Homo sapiens: one gene and its partner. The protein of the gene in region 2 purifies or fractionates together with the protein of the main gene of each other region. This does not show direct contact. Each region holds a gene or a part of one and is shown on either strand. Other genes may lie near its edges.

What was found.
Region 1: the proteins of ZNF200 (region 2) and ANXA13 purify together in Homo sapiens (affinity purification with mass spectrometry; one large-scale study listed by BioGRID and IntAct). This does not show direct contact.

The regions. Positions count from the first base shown.
Region 1 is NC_000008.11:123,699,236-123,703,057, reverse strand, and holds part of ANXA13 (annexin A13), read left to right. Parts: intron 1-321; coding exon 322-416; intron 417-3,822.
Region 2 is NC_000016.10:3,221,626-3,225,281, forward strand, and holds the end of ZNF200 (zinc finger protein 200), read right to left. Parts: intron 2,989-3,656; coding exon 2,267-2,988; 3' UTR 700-2,266; downstream 1-699. UniProt on the Homo sapiens protein: Localizes protein arginine N-methyltransferase PRMT3 to the nucleus.

The DNA of each region.
Region 1 (3,822 bases), on a different chromosome or scaffold from region 2:
TTCACATGCAATTGTTGGGTGGACATATGTTTTCATTTCCCTAGGAATAAAATTAAGGAACCAGCCATACTCGTTCCTCTTTCCACCACAATGCCTAGCACTGTGTGCCATGTGCTGTGAGGCCTCAATGGCTATTTGTCTAAGTGAATGAAAAGAATACAGTTTTCAGCACAAGGCATCAAAGCTAAGGGTCCGTTGGGTTCCATAGACACCTCCAACCACCTTTAAGCTGTGAGTCCTGGCTTCCTCACCCTGGACTAAAATAAACTTCCACCTTGTTTCTTATTCACTGTGGCTTTGTTTGTTTCTCCTGTATTTTAGGGACCAATGAAGCAGCCATCATTGAAATCTTATCGGGCAGGACATCAGATGAGAGGCAACAAATCAAGCAAAAGTACAAGGCAACGTACGGCAAGGTGATTCCAGGGGTGGTCAGCAAGCTTGCACCCAGCCATGGCCTCAGCCGTCTCGGCTTCCTCATGTCCCCAGGCCACGCAGAATATCTTTATAGCTTTATTGAGTCAGCCCAGGAGGAAAAGTGAAATAACCACTTAAAAGCATTAATGGAGTTCAGAAAAACTGAAATTGCTTTGTTAACTCAATAGCCTGTAAAATCAATACTCTTAAACTCATTTCTTAAATTGACTTCATTTTTCTATGAAGACCCTAGTCTTTTTTTCACTTAATTGGGACTAACTGTACATATGTAGCTAGATCAGTAATTTGAAAATCAGTTTCCACAAGTGGGTCTTTATACAGGAATTTTTCATAAGCGATTGTTACAGAAAACTACCAAAAAAACTCTCCATTTTATTAAGCTATCAACACCTATTTTTCTTTACATTTTCTTTCTTTTCTTTCATTCTTTTTATTGTTGAAAATAATTTTATAGAGAGAAGTCTTCAAGTATGCATTAGGCTTTCTTATTTCTTTATTAATATGTAATGAACACAACTTAAACTTTTCTTAATGTCATTAGAATTATCATTATGCAAAATGAATATCAATTATTATGCTGTATTCTCATTTATATTTTTCAAACTTTTACCATTTCAATCACTGTAGGTATAAATAGATATATAGAAAGATGAAGATGGGTTTTCCTATTTATTTGATACTGAGCAGGTAACAATTGCTTCAGGCCTTGGTCTTTTCATGGATAGAAAGAAGATGATAACTTAGCTCCCTTCTCAGGTTGCTGGGAGAATCAGTCAGGATAATGCCAGCATGTACCAATACAGGAAAAAGCTATGATAGCTATGATTGTTTCCATTTTACAAAATCACACACCTAAAAAAAAAAAAGAGAACCAGGACTCACATCCAAGTCTCACATCCAAGTCTCCTGACTTCAAGAACAGTATCCATTCCTGGAGGACCCAGTGCCATAAATAGAGCTATTTGCTTGTACACTAAATGGCCCAAATGGCTGTGCTTTTGTGCTTTTTCTGCTTCTCTCCTTACTATTAGGTGCGTCAATGTAATTTTTGATGAAAATAAGTGCATCTTCAGTTCAACTGCATTTAATTGAATGCATGAAGCTGAATGTGTGTGTGGTTTTTTTTGTTGTTGTTGTTTTGTTTTGTTTTGAGACGGAGTCTCACTCTGTTGCCCAGGCTGGAGTGTAGTGGCATAATCTTGGCTCACTGTAACCTCTGCCTCCCGGGTTCAAGCGATTCTCCTGCCTCAGCCTCCTGAGTAGCTGGGATTACAGGCACGCGCCACCATGCCCAGCTAATTTTTGTGTTTTTAGTAAAATTTTTGTATTTTAATTTTGGTCAGGCTAGTCTCAAACTCCTGACTTCGTGATCTGCCCACATCAGCCCAAAGTGCCAGGATTACAGGTGTGAGCCACCGTGCCTGGCCTGAAGCTGAATTTTTATCCCTGTCAACATCCCTAACTCCAGTAGCCTCCCAAGACACATTCACCCTACCAATATGAAAAGTCAGTCCAGGCAAGGTGGCTCACACCTGTAATCCCAACACTTTGGGAGGCCAAGGCAGGAGGATCACTTGAGCCCAGGAGTTTGAGACCAGTTGAGACCTTCATCTCTACCAAAAATAAAAAATTAGCTGGGCATGGTGGTGTGTGCCTGTAGTCCCTGCTACTCAGGAGGCTGAGGCTGGAGGGTTGCTTAAGCCCAAGAAGTTGAGGCCTCAGTGAGCCGTAGTTGCACCACTGCACTCCAGCCTGGGTGACAGAGAGAGACCCTGTGGAAAGGAAAGAAAGAAAAGAAAAGAAAAAGAGAGAAAGGGAGGTGGAGAGGAAGGGAGAGAAGGGAAGGAAGGAAAGAAAAAGAAAGAACAAAAGAATGAAAGAGAGAGAGAAAGAAAGAGAGGAAGAAGGAAAGAAAGAAAGAAAAATCGGATACAATGCTTCTTAATCTTTAGTCTTTAGTCTAAAGAAGAGTAAATGGATTCAAACTGAAAGCCTAGGGGCCCTGTTAAAACTTAAATGGGCATGTTCTGGCACAAAACTTTGTGATACTTCATTTGCCAATCATTTGCTTACTTTCTGGTTCTCAGCTGTGTTTCAGAGAACTGAGACTGCCAAACAGATAATCTAGAATCCCAACAACGCAAAGCTAGAAGATGTTAGGTATGATCCAATCTCAGCCCCGTGTCAGTTGACCTCCAAAGAGAATAACCACCCCGTGGTAACAGAGTCAGCAGGAAAACCAGGAGTAGAGCTGAGCTATCCCGAGCCTTCTACTCTGTCCAGTCAGAATGTAAGCACACAAGGATTTGTTTTTATGCCTGTGGCTTGTAAGAGTGGGAAGCTGGGATTTTTCTTCTCTGCAGCTTATATAATGCCCATCTGGCCTGAAAATATATTTCCAATTTTTAGATGACTCCACACCATAGAGTACTGACCACAGACCTGCCTTCACAAGATGCAGTGTTGGCTGGAGCAGCCACTGTGGGGCGGAGGCATAATATAACAGCCCCCTTGTAGGACTGCAGATCCCAGGGCTTTGGACAAAAATATTCCGGGTTTTTCTCCCAGGCCAAGAGCTCAGAGCTTCATTTGAAAAATAGTTGATGTGCCTCCTCTTAGAAAATTTTTTTCAGCATGGGAGATTAATGATAAGCATTTATTGACCGTTTAAAATATGTCAGGCAGTAATGCTCAGTATTGACAAGGATTGTCACATTTAATTCTCCCAAAAACCCTGTGAGGTCAGTCTAGCACTGTCTCCATTTTCTAGAGCTGAAAACTGACAGTTGGTGAGATTAAGTACATTTCCAAGGTCACAAAGGTACTGTGGCTGTGTTCTTTGCCACCATGCCACACTGCTGGGGAGCTGCCCACCCTATGCTATAGTTTGTGTCCTTGAAATGCCAGCTTGTCTATGGGCCTCCAATCTGAGCCATCCCAGGCTGTCGCTCTATGTGAAGGTCTTTGGTTTAAGTTAGGGCATTAACTACTCTAGGTAGGCTGATGCCCATCCTTGACCATTTCTCCTGTTAAACCACATTGTCAGAGGGAGACAGGGAGAAGGTAGTTAGTTTTCTTGTGAAAAGAGGGTGCTCAAAGAAAAGAGGAAGACAGGTGCTTGTCAGAATAGATGGCAGGCTGGGGTCATGGTGGCTCACGCCTATAATCCCAGCACTTTGAGAGGCTGAGGTGGAGGATCGCTTGAGCCTAGGAGTTTGAGATTAGCCTGGACAACATGGCAAAACCCCATCTCTACACAAAAAAATTTAAAAATTAGCCGAGCATGGCAGTGTGTACCTGTAGTCTCAGCTACTTGGGAGGCTGAGATGGGAGGATCATCTGAGCCCAGGAGGTCGAGGCTGCAGTGAGCCATGATTGCACCAC
Region 2 (3,656 bases):
TTCCTGGCAGCTACTTTTCTGGATGCATGGGCAGGTCCCCTACACATGAGATGGTGTGGGTTGTGGTGGCTTCACCCACCTACACTTAAACGAAAAGCTACTCAAGAGGTTGAGGCAGGAAGATCGCTTGAGCCTAGCAGGCGGGAGGTTGCAGCGAGCCAAGATCACCCCACTCCAGCCTTATCAACAGAGCCAGTCTCAAAGAAAAAATTAACTGTCTCGGGTACTGTGCCATGGCTGCATGAGGACTGATAAAATACCCGACTCTGGGCAGGGGTACCAAAGAGTGAGTGGAGACTCTCTCTCACCACTCACTTCCTGGCAGCTACTTTTCTGGGTGCACAGGCAGGTCCACTGCACATGGTAACAGCCTGCCGACTCTGGAAACACAGTTCAGGATCCCAGTCCTAGTGCACTGGTCAGACTTTCAAATAAGCGAATAACGTTGTGGGCAGCCTGTTTTGTTCGCTTTGCTGGCTTTACAGGGTACTTCCTGTTGGCCTGAAATACAATGTTGGTAAAGACAGTTTTTCTGTGGCCTTTCTCTGTTGTGGAGGATTTGTTGTTTTTAAATTACGATTCAGGACTGAACTGTATCATAGAATGTCCTTCTTTCAGAATGCTTTGTGCCAAAACAAGAAACCTCAGAATTACATGTTAATAACAACAAACAAAACAAAAAAGACCAATAGGCAGAAGGCAAGAAACAAAAACTATTCTTTGTAGATGGTGTCATTTTACCAAAAGTTAACAGAACTAAACCAACAAACTATTGAAAATTAACAACAGTGAGATGACTATACAAATATATAATTAAAAATAACTTTCCCATGTAAAAGCAATAATCAACTATAAAAATATAATGGAAAAAACTACAATAACAAAATTGTGTAAAACAAGTGAAGAAAATTAGAAAAATTTTCACAGGAATATAATACTCTAATAAATAGAAAGGCATGTTTCTGGATGGGAAACATACACTATAATTTTTCCCAAATAGCTTATAGGATTTCTTTATTCCAATCAAAACACCAATGTATAACTTTTGGAAACCTAAAGCAAGCAAAACTGAAGAATCCCTAAATCGCACCACACGATCAGTCCGTAAAGGCACCGCTGGCCTTGCTTCTAGGCAGAGGACAGGAAGGTATGGATATCAAGAGGCTGAAGACAATTAATACCCACTACAATGAAGACACCTGGAAACCTGTCTCTTGAGAGGCAATGTGAGCTAACCACTGGAGACGTAATTTCTAATCATACAACACTTTGCCTTGTGAGGTAGTGACCACCCCATTGCCAAAGGTCTGATGACAGCATAGAGGGGACCTAAGCATATGGTAAGGTTATTGATGAGACATGGATCCAAGCCAACTTTTTCCTGCCTCCAGGTTGACCCTTCCTCTCTGGGTCTTGGGGTTTCCTTCGTAGCACATGAGATCTGGGCTCAACAGAGGGACAAGATTCTGAAGAGCTTTTCTAGTGGTGGGGCTGGATGGCCCTGCCTGAGTAATCCAAACTTCTTTTAGCAAGGGAGAAGCATGAGACGGCTGCTGGAGAGATCAACAGCAGAACAAAATACAATAAGAACAGTAGACACCTAAATTATGTTGTGAAAAGGAATCTGTAAAAGTCAGTTTTATCACAAATTGTAAATATTATTGAAATTGATTGCAAATTTAGATCACATACAAATGAGAGTCTGACATTCAACTGTTTTCCTATATTCCAAAGTAAACAATTCCTTTCAACACTCAAGACTTAAACAGGTATTCTTAGAGGGTTATATGAATTGCTATCAGAAGCTGTTGGCTAACAAGCCAGTAATTTGGTTCTTTCACCAGAACACAGTTCCAGATAAGCATCTTTGCACTATTTCTCAAGTATGAATCCCCATGTGGGGGGAAAACGGATATACTTTCAATAGACACAAGTCACTCTTTGCCTTCCAAGTAAGCAGACTCCAGATTCATCTTCAAAGTGTTGGGAAAGGGGATCTGTGACCTGTACATTATCATATAACTTCAAAAAGGAAAGCTCCTTAGTCCAAAAAGCCTAGATGCTGAGGTATAGCCCTTGAAATGTTTTCTTCCCTGTGAATTTTCTAGCAATTTGAGGTTTTAGCTAAGATGGGCATTTATCCAATTTTGGCAATAATGAGATTTTTACACATTTATACCTTTTTAGGCAGCTTGGGAATTCAGAACTACTTATGAAAGCTCTCAGGTTGAGGCAGCACCATCAGACCCAGAAAGGGTTCCCAGTATTACTTCTGCTTTCGGGTCTTACAGGCTGAGTGGGTTTTCTCATGCCGGGTACAGTTTGACAGCCGACCAAATCTTCTCCCACATTTTTTGCAACCATATGGTCTCTCAGCCTCATGACTCTGCAGATGAAGCACAAACTCCTCATTCTTTGGGAAGGTTTTCCCACATTCTGGACACTTAAATATCTTCTCCCTTATATGGATTCCTTCATGACGACTCCGATGAGAATTCTGACGGAAGTTTTTTCCACACTGAGAACAGGAATAAGGTTTCTCTCCTGTATGAATTCGCTCATGTTTATTGAGGTTTGTTTTATGATTGAAGCTTTTCCCACAGTGATTACAGTCATAGGGTTTTTCTCCAGTGTGGGTCCTCTGGTGGGAAATGAGGTAAGAACTTTCATTAAACTGTTTCCCACACAGTGGACAAGTGTACCATCTCCTTGTCCTCCGATTTCGAGTAAGGGCAATAATACTGATGTCTACATATTTTGAGAGTTCCTCTAGAGGAGTATCATTCTCAATGGTAACTAACAGATTTCTCATTTTCCTTTTTTGTGGAATGGATGTATTTAGTCGTTCCTTTTCCTGGTTATCGGGAGGCTGCTGAGAGACCAAGGAAGAATCCATTTCATCATCATCTGAAGACTTTTCTCTATAATCTTCATTTTCTACAGGTTCCCTCTCAGGATCTTCACCTTCAGGATTACTGCCATTGACTGCTGAAACAAAGAGAGAATTTAACAACTTCTGAGAGATATCACAACACCAGGCAGGAAAAAACAAGTCAGGTTTCTTATGCCACAGCCACCTTGAACGTCAATCTGGGGAGTGGCGGATACTGCCGTCGCACTCCTTTTCCATACTTATTGAGGGTGGGATACATAACTGATAAATCTTTCCATCTACCACAATGCAAGCACACTTTAAAGAAATAAAATGAGTGGGATTTCACTGAAAGACTTCAAATGTTTGTTCTCTTCATAGGTGTTAATTACTCGACAAGTTCATATTCACCTTATACTCTGTAGAGCACTCAGGTAAGGACTAGGGATGAAGACTATACATCTATACAGGGAACCACTCATCATCTTGAAGGAGTCTGGTAACTGAATAGTAAGACGAACCACTTGTAGGTTTTCACTATATTAAATATTATCACACTATTATAGCACTAAATAATATCATAATGTCTTACAATGAGAAAATTGAAACAATTCCAATAAGCAAAATTAAAGAGGGCACAGCATATTCATACAAAAGTTTATTATTGGCCAGGCGTGGTGGCTCACACCTGTAATCCCAGCACTTTGGGAGGTCAAGGCGAGCAGATCACCCAAGGCTGGGAGTTCAAGACCAGCCTGACCATCGTGGAGAAACCCTGTCTCTA